Linked DNA regions of Homo sapiens. The protein of the gene in region 1 binds, or shares a complex with, the protein of each later gene. Each region holds a gene or a part of one and is shown on either strand. Other genes may lie near its edges.

What was found. Proteins that work in one complex are often made in the same cells at the same time.
Region 2: the proteins of NUP107 (region 1) and NUP133 are in contact, whole or in part, in a crystal structure (PDB 3CQG), measured with the Homo sapiens proteins. Residues at the interface, in NP_065134.1 of Homo sapiens: Leu875, Gln876, Ala878, Asp879, Val881, Ser882, Ser883, Glu884, Tyr889, Lys894, Leu897, Arg898, Leu900, Leu901, Gln902, Arg905, Ser908, Leu909, Leu912, Asp917, Pro918, Leu919, Tyr921; in NP_060700.2 of Homo sapiens: Trp937, Leu938, Ile941, Asn942, Gln944, Leu946, Tyr963, Ala965, Lys966, Lys968, Thr969, Leu970, Gly972, Leu973, Lys975, Leu976, Ala977, Leu979, Ala980, Ser981, Asp982, Ile992, Glu999.
Region 3: NUP107 (region 1) and CETN3 share a complex: the UniProt entries of both Homo sapiens proteins name them as parts of the nuclear pore complex.

Annotation. Positions count from the first base shown.
Region 1 is NC_000012.12:68,682,329-68,689,997, reverse strand, and holds the start of NUP107 (nuclear pore complex protein Nup107), read right to left. Parts: upstream 3,021-7,669; 5' UTR 2,933-3,020; coding exon 2,925-2,932; intron 1,037-2,924; coding exon 945-1,036; intron 466-944; coding exon 379-465; intron 1-378. UniProt on the Homo sapiens protein: Plays a role in the nuclear pore complex (NPC) assembly and/or maintenance. Required for the assembly of peripheral proteins into the NPC. May anchor NUP62 to the NPC. Involved in nephrogenesis.
Region 2 is NC_000001.11:229,484,342-229,491,366, forward strand, and holds part of NUP133 (nuclear pore complex protein Nup133), read right to left. Parts: intron 5,762-7,025; coding exon 5,614-5,761; intron 3,273-5,613; coding exon 3,125-3,272; intron 2,188-3,124; coding exon 2,030-2,187; intron 1-2,029. UniProt on the Homo sapiens protein: Involved in poly(A)+ RNA transport. Involved in nephrogenesis.
Region 3 is NC_000005.10:90,406,757-90,413,954, forward strand, and holds the start of CETN3 (centrin-3), read right to left. Parts: upstream 3,001-7,198; 5' UTR 2,906-3,000; coding exon 2,889-2,905; intron 1,079-2,888; coding exon 943-1,078; intron 1-942. UniProt on the Homo sapiens protein: Plays a fundamental role in microtubule-organizing center structure and function. As a component of the TREX-2 complex, involved in the export of mRNAs to the cytoplasm through the nuclear pores.

The DNA of each region.
Region 1 (7,669 bases):
TGTTGGCCAAGCTAGTCTTGAACTCCTGGCCTTAAGTGATCCACCCACCTTGGCCTCCCAAAGTGTTGAGATTATAGGCATGGGCCACTGCATCCAGCCTATTTACATACTTATTGTATATATTAGTTAACTTCTCTAAGTCTCACTTTCAGTTTTGGTAAAACAGGGCCAACAATACCCATGTCATAGTTACCGTGTGTTTATGGAAAGTACAGTACCTTGTACATGGCAAGAGTTCAAACGAATAATAACTGCAATCATTATTATTAGTGCTTATTGATATCGTAACCAAATACTATACTAATTATGTTACAATAAATGTTAGTTGCTATTATAATTACCGTTATTATTAAATGCTTTAAAAGCAAAAAATCTTACAAGGCTGTCGAAATGAGCTAGGAGTTCGAGGGATAACCTGGTTTCTTGGTGTAGTATTACCAAAATTTTCATCTTGAGATGCCTGAACTGTACAACGAGTTAAGAAAAGTTTTCCATGTAGAAAAGAGATCACTAAAATGAGAATTAACCATCTTTTTACTATACAAATTATGTGAATACATTTTTCAAGAACAAGTATTTTAGGGCTACCATTTTTCAATGCAAAGGGTAAATAATTCATTGCTTCTGCCATTTAAATGATCAGATGTCAGTCTTAGATAACTACACACTGAACTAAATGTTTTTAGTCAGTTTTCAAATAATAAAAAGAAATCTAATCTCAGCAGAAGCTGTCAGCAGTAAGAAATATCTTTATTTTTAGGGAAATACGATCTCATTAAATTTTTGCATTATATTTACCAAATGACAGCTCTGTGGAGTGAAAAAAAGTTTCTACAGGATTTTATTATAGCTACCATTTAATACTCTTATAAAAAGAAAATTCTACAACACTGATTCCAAACATGTTACAATTTTTATAATGATGCTTAAATCGCAAAGGATACGTAAAACTCTTTTCTGAGCACTCTGTTTCCGTGCAGTCCGTGTCACCTCTGCCTCCCGGATTACAGGGGATGATATCTCTCCAAAGCCACTCCTAAAGTAGTATAATCAAGCTTATATAAGTGAAACGAGAATATAGCATTTATAAAGAATTTTATCATCACAGTTGGAGTAAAGGACCCTGAGTAAGTTAAGGTATAGTCATTCTAGTAGCCAAGTCTTAGATCTTTTGTTGAGAACGCACTCCTGGCTCCAAATCCTGCTTATTCTTCAAAGCCTTACTCAAATCTTACCTGCACAAAGACTTCTCTGACTTTCTAGTACTCACTATGTTATTTTCTCCTAAGGAATTATTTCAACACTTGGAATCTATATTATAACACTGTTTTAGATAATTGCTTCATGAAAGTGAATCTTATTTCCCTTGTTGGATTGAGGAGTTACCTAACTGCAGGAATTCTCTCTTAAAAGATTTTCTGCAGTCTCCAAAATGCTTTAAACCATGGGTACTATTAAAAAACAAACAAACAACAACAACAACAAACAGAGCTTGCAACAACAACAACAAACAGAGCTTGTGAGATAGAAGGGTAAGTAAAAGAATTGTGGTAAATTGGAGCAAAATGACCCTTCAAGTTATTTCAACCCAGGAGGTCTCCTGTCCCATCACAACACTCCCTGTCAGTTTCACTCAAAGGTCTAGAAACTAAATTGTGCGGACTAAAAGGCCTGTGTTTAAGACAAGAATCTAATATGCTTTTCCTCCACTTAAAACCTTCAGATATTCCTTCAGCAGGAAAGTATGGGAAACAACCACATAGAAACAATTTTAAACGTTTAACAATTAAAATTAAAAACAAAAAAAAAAACCTTCAGATAGCTCTCTGGTCTATAGAAGTAAAAATTTCCTAAAATGATATTTACAATGTGACCCCAGTTTAGGGGTTCAGTCTTCTATTCAGCCACAAACATCACTTTAAACGTATACTGCATGTGACCACTGAGCTACACGTACTTTTTTTTCATATCCTAGCACCTCTGAATATGCTTCTTTTACAAAGACCTACATTTGCCCCCTTGAGCACCTGGTCAACAACTACTTACTCCTCAAAGAGCCTCAGGTAGGCTGGAGACACACAGATGCAGGTTGGCAATTTGGTTCTTGTATTTATTAGCTTCCGAACTTTCAGCAAGTTCCTTAACCTCTTTTAGTCTCAGTGTTATATATGAAAAAAGGATAACAGTACCCATCTCATAGGATTTTTCTTGTTCTGAAGATTAAATAAGCTAATAATATATATTCAACGCCTTTAGAACAATGGCAGTCACATAGTAGGTACTCAATGTTTGGAGTACGAATAATGTACTCTTATTATTCAAAGACCAGCTAGAAAGTTACCTTCTTTGAGGGGTCTTCCTGATAGTTACAGTGACAAGGAGACTTAATCGCCCCCAAACACTTACCACTTTACACTGCTTGGTTGTCTCCATTACACAACTAATTCCCCGAGGGGAAGGATCTTGAATAACTGATCTTTGTTGTAGGCGGCTAGCACAGTACCCAGATCATAGAGGGAACTCAGAATCTGATGCTGGCACTTGTAATCAGAAAGTCTGGGCTGAGATCCCAGTATCTTCACTGACTGGCTTTGTGATCTCAGGCTGGTCACTTAGCATTTCGAACGCCGCGCTACCTACCCCGCCCACCCCAGGAGCGAACAGTGTTGCTGCCCCAAAGCGCCGAATAGATCGCAGAACGTAGTGGGAAAGTAAGGGACTATTATGATCTGTACCCCACCCCGACGCACGCCAAGCGGCTTTTTCCCCATTTGTGGCCAAATTTCCCGGCATGGGGAAGGAGCCTTAGGGGAAGCACCCGGGACCTCCTTGGCTTCTTCTGGGAGTCTAGTTTCACCTATTTCGTTTCGCCAACAGGCGAGACGGGCAAGACTTCGGGCTCAGCTGCCACCATCAGTACTGACCTGTCCATGGCTAAAGCCTTTTCCACACACAACCAAAGTTGGCTGCAGTTTAGCTACCGCGTTTTAGCCTTCCCGCTCTCCGGAAGCAAGCCCTTCGACCCGGAAGCAGTCTGTCCCTAAAACAGACCCACAGAAAAGGGGTAGGGGAGAAGAAACAACGTTCCCATCTAGCGCATGCGCGACTTCAGCCTACAGGTGCACGCCCGGTGGGCGCAGGCGCAAAAGTTTGCCAATGTGTTCCTGGTTGCGTTTAGCCCAGACGCCCTGCGGCCGCTTTGCCTGACCAAAGTCTGTGGGCGTGGAACAGGCCCTGGGTTCTCCTACTGGGAAGAATGAAGTATGTTGATAGTCTGGAAAAATGTGAAGTCATTTCCTGGTATTCTCTGTCAGAAAGCGCCTGTTCTTGGAATTCAGATGCGTGGGCTCTGCCCCACACCTCGGGGATCTCTATCTCTCTGCCTACACTCAGTCCTTTGTTCTGTAGCCCCCTGCAGTTTTTGCAACTATTTTCCATAACTGCTATTTGTTCTTTACTTGGTGTTCTTTCCTATTAAGGAGAAAAAGTTCACCTGTATTAAAAAGTAGAAAGGCAAGCGTGAAATATGATGGTATTGCCCTCTATTTCAAAGTGCCGTCTAGGCAAAAAGTGGTGTATTTTGGTCTTGAAGGAGTCAGTCACATTTTTGTTTTGGTTTTTGTTTTTTCCAGTTTGAAAGTAGTGACTGGCTATTAACTGACCAGATTACAAAAATAATGTTAGATGCTTCAGTTTATCCGTTTAATAAGCCTGTTGATATAGTCTTTTCTGTTGCTGGCATTTATACCTTTTATTAATACAAAATAGGTAGTCCTTCATTCTCCCTCGTGGAGAAGATAATTTGAAGGATCACAGGAACTTGAGTTTTTCAACAGCATAGATCTCATGAATCAGATTCTCCAGTCAGATGATGCCATATTTATCAGGAAATCTAGCAATCAAAGCGTTATCTGTTAAGGTAATTTGTTTATTGATTTTGCCATAACCAATTTGTAGATCAGTTCATTTACTGATTTCAGGTTCAGGTACTCCATGTGATATATGGTTCCACAATCCTCAGCGTGTTAACTGAAGCCTTGTTGAGTTTAACAAAGCTGCCATTGAAGATCTGGGGAAAGTGAAGAAGTTGCAACAGAGTTTTGGGCTCACACCATTGATACATTTGATCCTTAAGGCAAGTGACAATTTGGGTTTCACAGGTATATAGAAATTGCCAGCTTTTCTTGCCATATATTTCTTGTGACAGTGCTGAGCTTTTTTTTTTTACTTCTTGCTTGCTTTTTTTTGGACTTGATTTTTTAAATTATGTTTCCTTCCTTCCTTCTTTCTTTGTTTTTTTTTTTTTTGAGACAGGATCTTGTCCTATTGTCCCGGCTTACGTGCAGTGGCACAGTCACGGCTCACTGCAGCCTTGACCTCCTGGGCTCCAGCAATCCTCCTACCTCAGCCTCCCTAGTACCTGAGGTTGCTGGGACCACAGGCACGCACCACCATGCCTGACCTCCTCTCCTCCCCCGTTTTTTAAAAATATTTTGGAGAAATGGGGTCTTATGTTGTTGCCCAGGCTGGTCTCAAACTCTTGGGCTCAAGCCATCCTCTTACCTGGGTCTCCCAAAGTGCTGGGATTACAGGGGTTAGCCACCACATCTGACAGTGCCTAGCTTTTTCATAGATGTAGCTTTCTCCTTGCTTTTCTTTTTCTTTTTTTTCGAGATGGAGTCTCATTCCATTGCCCAGGCTGGAGTGCAGTGGTGCCATCTCGGCTCACTGCAACCTCTGCCTCCTGGGTTCAAGCGATTCTCCTGCCTCAGCCTCCTGAGTAGCTGGGATTACAGGTGTCTGCCACCACACCCGGCTAATTTTTGCGTTTTTGGTAGAGATGGGGTTTCACCATGTTGTCCAGGCTGGTCTTGAACTCCTGACCTCAGGTGATTCACCTGCCTCAGCCTCCCAAAGTGCTGGGATTACAGGCGTGAGCCACTGCGCCTGGCCTTCTCCTTTCTTTTCAAAGCATTTTATGGGCAAACTTCTTTCTCAGGCACTTGACCTTTAGCTCTGTGAAATTCCTTCATGTGTTTTATTTTTATTTTTTGAGACAGAGTCTTGCCCTTTTGCCCAGGCTGGAGTGCAGTGATGCAATCTTGGCTCACTGAAACCTCTGCCTCCCCGGTTCAAGCGATTCTTGTACATCAGCCTCCCAAGTAGCTGGGATTACAGGCGTGCACCACCATGCCCAGCTAATTTTTGTATTTTTAGTAGAGGCGGGGTTTCACCATGCTGGCCAGGCTGGTCTCGAACTCCTGACCTCATGATCCACCCGCCTCGGCCTCCCAAAGTGCTGGGATTACAGGCATGAACCACAGTGCCCAGCCTTCCCTCACATTTTTAAAGGGTTTCTGGCACAGCAGGAATCTTCTTTTTCTTGTCTTCAATACCCTCCATGGTTTCAGCTGGGAAAGAGGAAATCAGTGGAAGTTTTGCCTTAGGCATTTATGTTCTGCTGTAATTCTGGGAAGCATAGTTCCCCGGAAGGCCTCTTCATACCTTATTATCCCCTCTCAGACAACATGGCATTTTGATAAAAACATTGCTTTGGGCTCCATCTAGGTTCAACCCCCCTGCACCTGCAGATTCCTCATCTGTAGAGTGGAGAAAACAATACCTTTGTCAGGGGGTGTTGTGAGGATTAAACAAGATGTCATAGGGAGTCCCTGTCTCTAACATAAGTTTTAAAAATTAGCCACGTGTGGTGACACGTGCCTGTGGTCCCAGCTACTTGGGAGGCTGAGGCAGGAGGATCACTTGATCCTGGCAGGCCGAGGCTGCAATGAGCTATGATCATGCCACTGCACTCCAGCCTGGATGAAAAAGTGAGACTTTGTCTCAAAAAAACAAAACAGACAAACAAAAAAAACAGAGACATCAACTGTATACACTGTACATAGCAGGTCATTGAAATGTTACTTTTCTCCTTTAATAACCTTTCTGAAGAATAATGCCCTGGCATGGTCTCATTCTCCCACCTCCTAATTTTCCTGTATACAAGTTCACTTTTTCTTATGGAAAGTGAAATGTAGTCCTAATCAGAGCTGGGGCAAGTTTATTCAAAGTATGATCTGTGGTTCATGTTCTTGCTCTGTGTCCCTCAGCAGTTGAATTCCAATGAGTTTTATTCGTGTAGTATACTTGAAGTGTACTTGAGGTGATTGACCATGAAGCACACAATAAAAATTAGCCCTGTGTTTGGGGCAAAAAAATTAGCCCTGTGTTCAGTTCATATGCAAAGATGGAAAACTTTTTGGAAAGTGCACTGGGTTTCACTTTTGACACATTTAATTAGTAGGCATGAACACCATAGCAACCCTGCCAAAATTTCAAAACATATTCATTTCATTACCTTAAAAGGATGTGGAATAAATTTCTTATGTGGTGTATATTGTATACATGGTAGCTTTATGTTTAGTATTCTTGGTTGCAATGACAGAAATTGACTATGGTTAACTTAAACAAAAGGGAATTTACTGGAAGCACATCAGGAGATCTTGGAATTGTTAAGAAACTGGAGAAAAGGTCTGGGATAGCACAGCTCCTCAGGAGCTGAAGGCCAGGAAGCGTCTTTCCCAAAGACACTCAAACTCCAACTGTTTGCTCCAGAGCATCCTTCACCTCCCTTATCCCCAACAGCTGAGGCATCAAATATCATTATTTGTACCCCCACCACCCCACCCCAAGTTTTTTTTTTTTTTTTTTTTTGGAAACAGGCTCTTTGGGCCAGGTGCAGTGGCTCACGCCTGTAATCCCAGCACTTTGGGAGGCCGAGGTGGGCGACTCACGAGGTCAGCAGTTCGAGATCATCCTGGCCAACATGGTGAAACCCCATCTCTACTAAAAATATAAACATTAGCCAGGCATGGTGATGGACCCCTGTAATCCCAGTTACTCTGGAGGCTGAGGCAAGAGAATCACTTGAACCCAGGAGGCGGAGGTTGCAGTGAGCCGAGACTGCACCATTGCACTCCAGCCTGGGCGAGAGAGCAACACTCCGTCTCAAAAAAAAAAAAGGGAAAAGAAAAAAGAAACAGGCTCTTTGGATCACTCAGGCTGGAGTTCAGTGGCGCAATCTTGGGTCACTATAGCCTCAGTCTTCTGGGCTCAAGCAATCTTCCCACCTCAGCTTCCTGAGTACCTGGGACTACAGACTCGCACTACCACACCTAGCTAATTGCTAATTTTTTTAATTTATGTTTTTGTAGAAATGGAGTCTCACTATGTTGTTCAGGCTCATCTGGGACTTCTGGGCTCAAGTGATCCTCCTGCTTCGACCTCCCAAAGTCCTAGGATGATAAGCCACCTTGCTCACCCCCTCCCTACTTTTTATTTTGAAAATTTTCAAACCTACAGAAAAGCTTATATAAGAATAGTACAGTAAGGCCGGCTGCAGTGGCTCACACCTGTAATCCCAGCAGTTTGGAAGGCCAAGGTGGGCGGATCACCTGAGGTCAGGAGTTTGAGACCAGCCTGGCCAACATGGTGAAACCCCGCCTCTACTAAAAATACAAAAGAAAGTTAGCCAGGCATGGTGGTGAGTGCCTGTAATCCCAGCTACTTGGGAGGCTGAAGCAGGAAAATCACTTGAACCTGGGAGGCAGAGGTTGCAGTGAGCCAAGATCACGCCACTGCACTCCAGCCTGGGCAACAGAGCGAGACT
Region 2 (7,025 bases), on another chromosome or scaffold:
TACACTAACATTAATGATAGCTGATGAGTTAAAAAAAAAAAAATTTATGTTTCAAGCAAGTTTACGAATTTGTGTTGGGCTGCATTCAAAGCCATCCTGGGCCGCATGCAGCCCATGGGTTGTGGGTTGGACAAGCTTGGTCCATACCAATTATTCATATACTTATTGAAACACTATAAATAGCATCAAATGATCAACCAAAGTCATACAGAAAAGGTACAGGTAATTCAGGGATTATGTTGTAAGTAAAATAATTTGGACATTTCATCATAATTAACAGAATCTTTTTATAGGTTTGCTCTTACACGACTCATCACAGTGTATACTACCTAAGCATAATGGTTGATTACAAATTTAAACAACGGTTTAGAAAAATTTTAAAGAAATGGAATACTATAAAATTGCTTCAGAATGTATAACAGTATTATAATAACCATACAATTACAAAATAGATATTAATCCTTTTTTGTAATCGTATTAATTACAAAATACAAGGTATTTTGTACTTTGTATAATTTTGTATAATTACAAAATACAAAATGCAAGGTATTAATCCCTTTTGTGAAAAGAAAAAAAAGTTAAAAATTGTTTCTTTCCTTTAAAACTACACTTAATCACTTTAATTTGAATTACAGAGGTAGTCTATATATTTCATACACTATTCAAATGGAAATTACCCCAAACAGTATTAATTATTTTTAGTCTTCTGTAAAAGAATGATAAAAATCTTATGGATAGGATATTTCAGGTTTCAAGACAACAGAATAAAATTGGTAATTTTTACCTGGCTATTCCTCTCAAAAAATCATCCCAGAATAAAAAGAAACAGAAATACAAGCTCCTTGGAAATATCTGTGATACTAACTACAACAAAGGAAGATAGAAAGCAGAAGGAATGGGAAATGGCCCCGCTGACAGGAGATGAGGCCACCTATGCATGGTGCAGAGGACAGGTCCTGAGGATTTGAGGACAATAGAAAAGGGAAGTTCTGGGATGACAGCTGTGCAGATGGAAGGTTTCTGGAGACTTGACTTTGGGAAAAACTACATTGAGGGGCACTCTACAGAACTCCTGGAGTGTGTAAAAAGATTAAGTCACATATGAAAGGAAAGTGAGAAAATACAAAACGAGGTCATTATACACTCCAAGAGTCACACAAAGTTCTATAATAAAGGACATGTAATCAGTATTTGGGATCAGCAAACCATAAACAATATTTACATTGTCATTACAATGAAAAAAATTTATGTTAGAATGATAAAGGCAGAGGAAGGAGTATAAGGTAACCCAAAACCTCATTTTCTGTAGTAGAAAATCAACAGATGCATCAGGAGACAGGAATATATGTACATTACTTAGATATATGGAGAAAAATACCAGAATAAATCACTAAAAGGCTTAAATGTAGTTGCTCCAGGCAAAGAGGACAGAAGGGATGAGGAAGATAAAAAGAACTAATGTCTGCATCATTACGTCTTTGAAAACTGTCTCAGTTTTGAGACCATTTGTATAAAATAATCTGATAAAACTAAAAATTAGGCTGGGCATGGTGGCTCCACGCCAGTAATCCCAGCACTTTGGGAGGCCGAGGCGGGAGGATTCTTGAGCCCAGGAGTTTGAGACCAGCCTAGGCAACATAAGGAGATCCTGTCTCTACAAAAAATAAAAAATTAGCCAGGTGAGATGGCGCATGTCTGTAGTCCCAGCTATTTAGGAAGTTAAGAGGGGAGGACTGCTTGATCCCGGGAGGTTGAGGTGAGGCTGCAGTGAGCTATGATTATGCCACTGCACTCTAGCCTGGGCAACAGAGTGAGACTCTGTCTCAAAAACCAAACCAAACCAAAAAACAAAAAATTAGCCAGGCACCTACTGGGAAGTCTGAGGCAGGAGGATTGCTTGAGGCCAGGAGTTTGGGGCTGCAATGAACTACGACTGTGCCACTGCACTCTAGCCTGGGTGACAGCGTGAGACACTATCTCTAAAAAATAAATAACATAAAAACTTCAAATTCTTATCGAATCACATTACCTCACTGTTTGGTCCAGCAACTGAAGATGCTAAAGACCCTTCCAAGTCTTCTGCCAATATAGACACATTTTCCCTTGAAGTAATAGACACCAGTCCACTGTTTCTAGAAAAAATGATAGGAACACCACCACAGGCACCAGCACCTAAAACACTATCTCCTAAAAGAAAGGAAAACAGAGTCAAATACATCTAACAATAACAACAAAATGCTATGTAAAAGCTACCACCCTAAGCAGAAAATCATCTTGATGATATATTAAGCACATTTTTTCCTTTACAACATTAGTCCTACTTCGAACTCATCCTTTACATCCCAGAATCAAATGCTAAGAACCGGTTGCTATCTGAAGAAGCAGGCTCTGTGTCTTTCAGCTTTAAGGACAATAAAAACTAGCCTTGCCAGACAGCAGTCAGTCTAGTAAGCCAAAAAAGAAAATTATTCCTTCTGCAAAACTCAGAAGAAGAGCTTTTTCAATCCTGTGGAGTTCTCTTAATTCTGACTTTAACTTACCACATCAGTCAATGGGGACTGGAAAAAAAAAAAAAAAAAAAAGGTCTAAGCCTACCTGGCACCTTAGTAACATCCTACCCACCCTCTGTCAAGGTTCTTGTGCTGGGACTAGAAAACCTGGGTTCCATGCTGTTGCCTACCTGCACTCTGTCCTCTGCCCAACCCCTTCAGCTAAGTATCTGCTTGGTTCTTCTTCAATCCTGACCAGCCCCCCTGCATAAGTCCAGCACCTGAAGCTCTTCTTATCTAGGGGTGTGGAAAAGTTAAAGCATCAACTCAGAATATGTCACTTTTACTAACTAGGAATAAGCAATTACTTCTCTTGGCAATAGTTTTTTGCTTCTTGGCATCTTCTCCTGGAACAAATGTTACTATCTTTGTCTGTAAATATAATAGTTTGGAAATTCTAGTACCCTTTTGGTTTCTTAGTAGGGTTATGGCTTCAGCTGCTGTAGTTGTGGTATGAAATGTCTCAGAAACATTTGAAAGCAGCATGCTTGAAGTGACATTCAGGGAAAGAGAAAAAAAGCACTCAGAATGACTAATGAGCTCACCAATCATGCTTTCTAAAACTGCTACTGTACCTTGTGCATTAAAGACAATTTTCTCCTGGGGAAGAGAAAATTTCCCAGTTCCTGTGGAGCACACATAGACAGCACTTTCGTTATACAGATAGGCAGTCTGGTTTGAAAAGTTTGGGACCGTCAACTGACACAAAATCAGGTCTTCAGACTGAAAGTTAAATTTAAGATTACATTTAACAAGAAGTAAAACAAAAATATTTGTATGATTTTTTAAATTCATTTTTGTACATTATTTCATAAAAATATTTCACCAATTCTCTTTGTAAAAATCTGAACACTACCCATGAGATGATTAACAAAACATGACAGAGTAAGTTTATAAACATCAATTAGACATATATTTTGTTGACTTGCTTATAATTTGCTTTTTTAATTTTTTTTTTTTTTTTTTTTTTTGAGACAGAGTCCCACTCTGTTGCCCAGGCTGGAGGGTAGTGGTGCAATCTTGGCTCTCTGCAACCTCTGCTTCCCAGGCTCAAACAATTCTCCTGCCTCAGCCTCCTAAGTAGCTGGGATTACAGGTGCATGCTACCATGCCCGGCTAATTTTTTTGTATCTTTAGTAGAGATGGGGTTTCACCATGTTGGCCAGGCTGGTCTTGAACTCCTGACCTCAGGTGATCCACCCACCTCAGCCTCCCAAAGTGCTGGGATTACAGGCGTGAGCCACCGCACCTGGCCTAAATTGTTAATTTCCAAAATTAACAAATTTGGAAAACATTTCCATGATGATGACTATAACTAGAAGCCTATGATAAATTCAAAGGAGAAAATGAAAGCACTAAAATTCGTTATATTAAGAATTGGCAATTTTTTATAAATATTCCCTGATAAACAAACATTTTTGTTCTTACCTTACTGCCAAGATATTAATGACAAGAAAACTTAGTTGATTTGTTTACATATAAAATCAGAGGGAGAAATAAAAATAAATCTCATTAAATAAAATTAGAATATGCTAAAAATGATAAGCTGTTATTAAAGAAGTAATTTTACAGAAATATTAAATGCGAGGTCCTAGAATTGTTTTTTAATCCTCAAATTCTCTTTATAGTCTTCTGCCCTGGCTGAAATTTTTTCTAACACTGAGCATGTTTTCCACACTGCATAATCAGAACACATGATAAAGTTTATTTCTGTTTGGCATAAAAGAACAAATCAAAAGATTTTCTTACAGGATTCAATTAAACAAGTCATGTTAAGAGTAAGGATCAAAAAAAAAAAAAAAGTAAGAATTTAAGCCAGGAACGGTGGTGCACACCTGTAATCCCAGCTACCTGAGAGGACTGCTTGAGACCAGGAGTTGGAGGCTACCGTGCACTCTGATGGACCTGTGAATATCACTGCACTCCAGTCCAAGCAACACAGCAAGACTTTATCTCTTCAAAAAATAAACAAACAAGGATTTAACAGAATTAGATACTATGTAAGAGTAAATAAAATGAATTTATAGATGTTCAGGTTCTTCCTCATGAATACCAGTTATTAAACATGTTTAATTGCTATTAATGAACTTAAAATTGGAAAGCCTGTCTTCCAGTCATTTACAAGAACTTTGATGACTACAGAACACTGCTGAATACAAATATAATCTTCCTTTGGGTAAAAAGGAGGATTTTTCTATAGTATACAAGGCTCTAAACCAAACCCTAATTCCTACCAGTTTTCTTCCTTCCTTTTTCTTTTTCTTCTTTTTTTAGGATGGAGTCTCATTATGTTGCCTAAGCTGGAATGCAGTGGTTATTCACAGGTGTGAATATGGTACACAACAGCCTCAAACTCCTGGGCTCAAGTGATCTTCCTGCCTCGGCCTGTTGAGTAGCTGGGACTAGAGGCATGTACTCATCATGCCCAGCTTGGTTTCTTCCTTACTTTCACCCTGGAATTAATCAATACCTTCTTTCTACCTAAATACAGACATGACAATCCCTCCAAAGATCTAGAGCAGAAGAAACAAACTGCTTTCTGCTAGTTGCTTCCATTCTCATTTTTCTTTAGTCAAAACTAAGCAAAAGAACAAGCCTGAGATGGCAAAGAAAATGCAACAATGTCTAGAAACAAGCTATTTTAAAATATTTCCAAGCCCTGCAGATGAAATCTGTCACGAAATTTGACCCTGAAATGGGCCACGCAAGGTGGCTCACACCTGTAATCCCAATATTTTGGGAGGCCAAGCTGGGGGAATCACTTGAGGTCAGGAGTTTGAGACCAGCCTGGCCAACATGGTGAAACCCTGTCTCTGCTAAAAATATAAAAATTAGCTGGGCATGGTGGCACATGCCTACAGTCCCAGCCACTCGGGAGGCTGAGGCAGGAGAACCACTTGAACCTGGAAGGGGAGACAGAGGTTGCAGTGAGCTGAGATCAAGCCACTGCACTCCAGCCTGGGTGACAGAGCAAAACTCTTTCAATAAATAAATAAGACCCTGAAATGGTTAGAAAAATACTCAACATATTATTGCTTTGTAATTTAACCAATATAAATCTTACCTGAAAAGGTGGATTATATTGAGTGACTTCTACAGTAACTGCATCTGACATTTGGCAACCATTATCTTCTATTGTTATCAGAGAGTAATAGATGAGACATGGATTGTCTGCTGAGTGCCATGCTGCTGCCAAAATCACCAGCCCATCACTAATCAATAAAAAAGGAAGATGTAAAGCCTCTCTAAAAAACAACTTAGGAGTTTCCTATAAAATTAAACATATGCTTCCATATAACTTAGCAATCCCATTCGTGGACACCTATCCAAGAGAAAATTTAAAAACAGAAACAGAAAACCAATAACTGTGTTCACACAAAAACCTGTGTACAAATGACTGTAGTGGCTTTATTCATAATTGCCTAAAACTGAAAACAACCCAATGTCTTCCAAGTGCTGAATAGATAAACAAACTGTGGTATATCCATACAAAAGAACACTATTCAGTAGTAAAAAAAAAAAAAAAAAATACTGAATGAATTTGAAGTGTATTATGCTAAGTGACAGAAACCAGACTCAAAAGGCTTTACACTGTATGTTCCATTTCTATGACATTAAGCAAAAGGCAAAATATAGGGACAGAAACCACATCAGTGATCTCCAGGGGCTAGAGGATGGAGGGGTCGATTACAGAAAGCACAAGGGAATTTGGGGGGTTATAAAACTGTTCTGTATTGATTGTTACGGTTAAATGACTAAATTGTGTATCTGTCAAAATTTGTAGAATTAGGGCCAGGTGCGGTGGCTCACGTCTGTAATCCCAGCACTTTGGGAGGCCAAGGTGGGCACATAACCTCAGATCAGGAGTTCAAGACCAGCCTGGCCAACGTGGCAAAACCATCTCTATAAAAATTAGTCAGGCATGGTGGCACATGCCTGTTGTCCCAGCTACTTGGGAGGCTGAGGCAGAAGAACTCTTGAACCCGGGAGGTGGAGGTTGCAGTGAGCTGAGATCGCACCACTGCACTCCAGCCTGGGCGATAGAGTGACACCCCATCTTAAAAAAAAAAAGAAAAAAAAAACAACTTGTGGAATTATAAACTAAAGAGGGTAAGTTTTACTCTATATAAATTATAGCTCAATAAATCTGACTTTAAAAAAAGATCAAAACAACCATCTGATCCAGGGATTGGCAAAGTACAGCCCTCCAGTGAAACTGATCTCAAACCAGTTTTTATAAATGAAGTTTTGTTCGAAGGCAACCATACGCATTTATTTATGTATTTTCTAGGGATGTTTCATGATACCATTGGTGAAATAGAGTAGTTGCAGTAAAGACTACATGGCCGCCAAAGCCTAAAACAGTTACTTTTGGCCCTTTACAGAAAAGGTTTGCCAATCCCTGATGTACTCAGTTATTTAAAGCTTACTTGCTTTTGTCCAGAGGAAAAACATTTTTAAAAAAGTTTTACCTCC
Region 3 (7,198 bases), on another chromosome or scaffold:
GGTATGAAATAAGGTCCCAAACCAAGATAGTCAATGGTTACAAATGGAACAGACATTATAAAGGAAGATCAAATCTGGGTAACCAAAAAAAAAAAAAAACAAAAAAAACAGTGGGAAAAGAGAGCCAAAGAGGACTGCAAGATTGAGAAAGCTAGACTTAGCAGGCCTATTAACTGCTTTTATACATTCTATCCTGTCACTGCATAGTTCCTATCCCTACTTGGAATTCTAATGCTTAAAAATCCCTTACGAAATTACAAAAATTAAAACTACCAAATAAACACTTACATTCACCTATCCATTAAGGCCATTAAAAATCTCAAAATACTATCTTTCCCACTGTGCTGAAAGTAAGTCCCATTCTACCCTAAACCCAAATCTCTCCTTATACCCTGACAAATAATAATTTACAAATCTCTCCCTACACTTTGACATTCTAGGTCTTAAAGCTGACATTTTTACCTATTAGCATGTGTCAACATCAAACAGCACTAAAGTTGTTTGCACCAGAGAAAGTGGATTGAGACTATGTTACTAACAAATCCAAATTATAAGATTAAAAGACAACACTCCCACAGTCTGAAAACAGTATGAGTCACCAAGAAACAAAAACAAAAACAAAAAACAGTGAAAAGAAGATGGTAAGAATAAATTCCAGTTTGAAATCCTTTAATTATGACAGTGAAAAATAAGCACCTTCCCTGGGAATGTATTTTTACATTTAAAATACTATTCGTTTTCTCATGTGAAAAAGATTTTCTAAAAACTATGTTAGGAGTTCTCTTCAGTTTTATTACAGCATCTAACTATGAATGCTTAAAATGCCTTCATAGTTCCAAAACCAATTTAGTTAAAATAATTATTTAGAAATGTAATGTAAAGCAACTGTAAAAATGCAAATCATTTTAACACAGAAACAAATATTTTAAAGTATACCATTACCTTTAATTCATGATAATCTATTGCTTCATCTTTGTCTGTATCAAATAGTTCAAAAGCATCTTTAATTTCTTGTTTCTGTTCCTCAGACAGTTCTCTTCTTTTTTTCCTCTTTGTTTTGTCCACTACAAGCTCACTTCTATGAAATGGAAAGAAAAAGCCCTTAGTCCACTTTAATTCTCTTTACTAACAGAAATTAGCCAATAATTACCTTCTAAATTTCAAAAAAGAAAGTACTTTGGAGAAAGATAGGGAAACTTTCCCTTTATGAGTCAATGACCTGTTTATTCCATAGTCTAAATTGCTATAAATCTGAACTTCGCAAAACTAAAGAGTGTTACAGATTATTAAAAGAAATGAGGACCAAACTTTTCTTTTTCCCAGCTTTTTATTTATTCCCACTAATGTTACTGTGGAAGAAACAAGAACTGTGAATAAGCAACACTACTTTTATGTCTGAAACTCCAACCAACTCCAACCAAAAAAACAAAAACACGTTATCCTACAAGAATGTTAAAGAATTTAAAAAAAATCTCCAAATGAAACCAAAATTCATAACTGACAATCACTATATATCGGTTTACTGTTGATAGTTCTGATAATTATGTTCATAAAATTACAAAAAAAAAGTGAATTAACTTATACAGTATTTTAGCACTGTTGGTTCAAAATGTTTTTAGATTACACGTTTTTAACAGTTTGGCAATTTATGTGTCATTTCCTCCATTGATATTAACAAACCATCGAAAATATTAATGAGTCTAAACATATGACAAATATTAGATGCCAATATACAATGTTTGTGCTTCATTCTATATAAAAATGTGATGAGTCTTGTCTCATTTAACATGTAAACCGGAGGTTAACTTCTCATAAACTCTGGAAACGCTTAAAGAAAAAAAGCAAAAATTATTTTAAAGCCAGAAATGTTTTCCTTAAGAGCTGCCCATCTAAATGTGCTCCAAATTTTCAAATGGAGCCGCAACACTGGAATAACGAGTTTTGAAACACAATCCGGTAACACATTAACATGTCAAACCAGTTGACTGTACTTAAAACACCTATCTAGTTGCATTTGAAAGTCGTTTTGGTCTCTGAAAGCTCCAAAAAAAAAAAAAAAAAGCTAGGAAGTGACTAGTAGGTGCAGTATAACAAAGCTGAGGAAGATCTTCCTTTCATGAGACCTGACTTGACACAAACTTGGGTATTCCTGGGGTCAGTCTTTTCCTTCCTGAGACTTTTGGAGGCCAAGTCCAGAACCGACCCACCCCTGACCCCATCCAAGGGTACCATGATTATCCCTTAGCAGAACATGGAATATTTTCGGAGTGTCGTAAGTGTATGGATAGTTTTACGGTACAACGTCTACATAGTGGGAGAGGGCAACAGAGGGTTAGAGGTTAGAACTGAAAGGTAAAAAAATGCAAGAAATTTAGGAAATCCAAGAGACAGACTGCCAATTAAAGTCACTAAAATGGGTCTCCAATTACACCGTAAAGCAGGGCCCTGGGAGAAGAGGAAAGAGTTTTTGTTATTTCCAAAATTTATAGGTGGGTGATTGCATTAGCAGCGGAGCAGCCGAGGTGGGGCCCTGACCAGGCACACGGATGAATGAAGGGATGTCCGCGACCTGATCTGAGAAACAAGAGTAGAAGCCTCGCGATATTTCATTCCCACCTCGCTCGCAACTAAGCCCAACCTTCTGGCAGTCCAAAGCCCTACGCGCTGACAGAAATAACCTCCTTAGCAGAAATGCACTGGTCTCGTTCCCTGCAGGGCATCAGAGCCCAGAGGGTGAGTGATCCGGGCAGGCTGCCCTAGGCTCCTTTCCCGCGTCCCAAACTACATCCCCTGCCTCGCCTCGGCCCCAAACGTCCTCCCTTCCACACACACCCTCCCTGGGCCCCGCTCCGGGGTGTGGAGAGCACTGCCGCCTCCTTATTACCGACCTCAGAGCTAAACTCATTATCTCTTCGCACAGAGACGTTCCTCTCAAGAACGATTTTAACCCCCTACCCAAGGCAGCAAGACGCCCACAGCCGTTCAACAGACACGAACGACCTCAGCGGCCTCAGGGACCTCCCACAACATAGACACTTTTGAGCTGGATTGGTTGAAATGTCGCTATGGTTCTGCCTATTAGGGGGCGGAAGCTTTACCAGTTCTATTTTCATTGGGTAGGTTTTACGTCAATCAAGGAAAAAAAAATTTTTTTTCTGTGCCCCGCCCACCTCCTAACGCCCCCCCGCCCCCCCAATCTAGGGCCGCTCTCGCCCTTCGGATTGGCTCGATGCGTTTTTCCCCGAATCCTTTGCGGGTCCGGCCTCCGATCCCTGTGTGGCTGTTTGGCGGGTGGGCGCTGTGTTCCTCTCTCGTAAAGCCGTGCGGTCTGTGGGCCGCCATTCAGAAACTGGATGGACAGCTTCGGCGGTGGGAAGGGAAGGGACATGCTGCAGGCCACCCTCCGGCTAGAAGGAGGGAGTACTTGAGGAACAAGGTCTGCGAAAATTGGCTGTGCTCTGTTCTAAAACTTGGAATGGCCTCAGTACCTGGGGAATGTGTTTAAAATGCAGACTTAAATGTCCGTTTCTCCATTCTAATTTCAGTAGGTATGAATCTGCGTTTTTACTCCTCACAAGCCTTCCAAGTGATTCTGAGGCAGGTGCTGTGGCTGTACTTGGATTATCACAGGGTTAGATTATCAGGCTATTTATGATTTAGCTGTATCTAAACCACCTTTCCCTCTCTTTCCTCCTTTGAACTGTTTGAAACGGATTTGTTCCCTTCTGTCTCTTATTTTTCAGTGCTGTAAGCTGTTAACACACATGAGACTGTCTTCACTACCAAACCAAGTCTCCTAAAGCTCACTTGAATGTCTGCTTATTCGTGTCTCTTACTAGGTTCAATTTCTTGGAGGCCGTGATTATATCTATTTAACGCTTTTCCTTGTACCTAATAAAATGTCTGGTGCGTAGGTGCTCGGTAAATTGAGTGGAATCTTTTGAAAATCCACAAAATACTGAGCTAAACAGCAAATCTCATAAACGTGAATAAAATAGCCTGAGGATGGGAGTTGAAGGCGGAGAATATATAAACATTATATGTTTAAGGGATGTATATAAAATTTTAGAGAAGGGAGAGAACACAAGATATGCTTCTTAAAGGAGGTGACATAAACGTTAGACCTAGAAGGATGGGCTAAATTTGCACAAGGAAAGATAGTATGATAGAATAAGCTAAAAATTAGCTAAGGGATAGCACCCCTAAAAAACAAAAGTGGAACTTTTATTTTGTTCGTATTTTAAATTTTAAAGTACCTTTATAAATCACCTTTGAGTCTAAAAGGAAAGAGAAATTGTAGTTACTAGAACATAATGATATTGAAAAAAACTATATGTTAAAATTTTAAGATACAGACCAAGTTATAGGAGAACATTATTTTAAATAAGAAAGAATAAAAATAGGCCAAGCATTTATTTGAAGATGTTAGAAACGAAGAACAAATTGTATAATTGAAATTAGGAAGAGGAAATTAGTAAAGATAAAGTTTGAGAACAGTGTTTTAAAAGGAAATTGGTAAAATTGATAAAGTACTCATAATCTAGTATAAAGCTGGTTTTTGGCAATACCAGTGAAATTCAAAGACTTATAGGAAGTGTAACAAGAAAAGGAATAGTGCCACTAGTAAGGTTGGTAATTTAATAAAAGGGAGGTTTAAAAATTATTAAAATATTTTATACAATTTTATACCGCCAATAAATATTAATAGAAAATGAAATAGTCACTTTTCAAGGAAAACATAACTCAAAAAAGGTGGAAAACTGAATTAAGTCAATAACTACAGACAGGACTGGAACAAAGATGCCAAAGTTCTGTACTCACAAATAAAAAGCCTCCAGCCCACTCAGATTTATGATTAAAAATCATAAGAGCTAAATCTTGTGCTTTAAACTCAAGTCATAGAAAATGATGGAGAGCTTCTTAGCTTAATTTTTGAAGCTGCCATAATCTTTCACATCCTAAAAGAACATTTAAAGTCACTCAGTGTAAGCTCAGTGATGATGAAGGCTATGCATGTTTCTCACCATTGTATCCCCAGTGCCTGACTCATGTTTGATGTTCATTTGTGAACTTAAGTGCAAAATTCCTAGATGTTAGCAAAGTCAGTTTGATACTGTCTTAAAGGAACATTTCTCTATAACTAAATTGAGTTTTTTTTTGTTAAGTGCAAAGATAATTCAAAATATAAATCTGTGTTAAATAATTATAATGTTAGGTTAAGGAAATCATCTCAGTGTCAAAAAGGCACTGAATAATAGGTAACACCTTTTCTATTAGGATATAAAGTGGGTTTAGAAAATACTTTTTTAAATATGATCGGCAGAATACTTAAACACCAGTGTTTCTCAAACCTCATTCCTGAAACACTAGGATTTTGTGAGATGCTTTTGGTCTCAGAGTGCGTTTTATAAGCAAATAATTTGGGCAAACAGATTTTAAAAGGTTTTCAATAGGGTGTCCTTTTAAGAGAGTGACAGGGAATTTACACGCATCACTTTTATTATATTTAATTAGTGAGAACTAGTGACAACCACTTCTTGCTTCACGGGAGGTTGAGGCAAGAAATCTCTAGATGGAAAACTGCTCTGCTGAAACTTGGGGTCTAATCATCTATTACTAAAGATAAGACAGGTGGTTACACTAATTATATTTTAAACCTAAATTTGATGCAATCAAAATTCTCATATTTTTCTTGAATTGAACAAAGGTATTCCAAAGACCATCTCAACAACAATTCTATAAAAATAACTTACTAAACTGTGAAAAAGAATAATAATACAAAAATTGCTGTATGGGACACTAAAATGTATTTGGTACAATGGTAATCAGACCAGAAATTCCAGAGACAGCCAAATGTAAATAAAAATGTCTGCTTTGAAAAGGTAGTGACATAAATATTTGTTTAGTCTGCCTCCTAAAGCCTTAATAAATCAAGAGTTCCTCTATCACCCACGCTGGAGTGCAGTGGCATAACTCACTGTAACCTCAAACTCCTGGGCTCAAAGGATCCTCCCGCCTCAGCTCCTGAAAAGTTAGGACTACAGAAGCATGCCACCATGCTCAGCTAATTTTTTTTAAATTTTACACTGTGTTGCTGTGTTGCCCAGGCTGGTCTAGAACTCCTGGTCTCAAGTGACCCTCCAGCCTCAGGCTCCCAGAGTGTTGAGATTACAGGAATTAGCTCCCATGCCTAGCCAATAAATTAATTTCTAAAGCTGAAGTGACCTGGAGAGGGACCATCAGCAGACTAGGTATTTAAAAAATTATTGGAAAGATCAAAAGAAATATGGAAACTTGTTGACAAATGAAACAGATCACTGAAGTGGCATCCTATAATTTTCCAGAGATGACTTATGTTTCACAGAGAGTTGATCTACCTAGCAAAGTCCCAGAGAGACTCCAGGAATAGAGTTCCCTTGTACAGTAGAAGGTGGAAATGAGAAGGGGGCTAAAAACAAAATGTCAATTTAAAACCTCTTTAGGAAACCACTGTACTTCAGTTCCTCCAGATTCCTCTCCCCAGTGTTTTGTCTCTTTACATCTATCTAGAACTCCACTCTTTTTTTTTTCCTTTTTTTAGAGACGGGGGTTCTCTCTGTTGCCCAGGCTGGAGGGCAATGACATGGCCTTAGATCATAGCTCACTGCAACCTCAACCTCCTGGGCTCAAGCAACCTCCCACCTTGCGCCTTGGCCTCCTGAAGTGCTGGGATTACAAACGTGAGCTACGGCACGTGGCCTGAGTCTTTAAAATGAATGAAGAATGAAAAACCATCAGAGATATGAAAATCAACAGCATGAAAGATAAAACTAAAAACCATTTCAGGAAGACTCTGAGTCAGCTAAGGAACCAAAATAAAATAATAAGAAATTAATAATAATAAGCTGCCTAAGAAGTACTCAAGAAAATATTAGAGAACAGAATACTCTGAAAAAGGAGCATTGGAGAATAAGAAAAGACTGTTGAAAATAAACATGAATGTAAAAATTAAACTGGCAAGATGATTTAATTGAAAAAATATCACAAAACTTGCAGTATTCAAACAAAAACATGGAGAATTTTGAGAAAAAAATGGAGGACTAATTCATTATTTGACTAATAAGAATTTCTGAAAGAGAGAACAAGAGGAGGAGGAGAAAAATATCACACATTGAAAAGATACTTCGAGGAACTGAAGATAAATACAGGTCTCCAAATT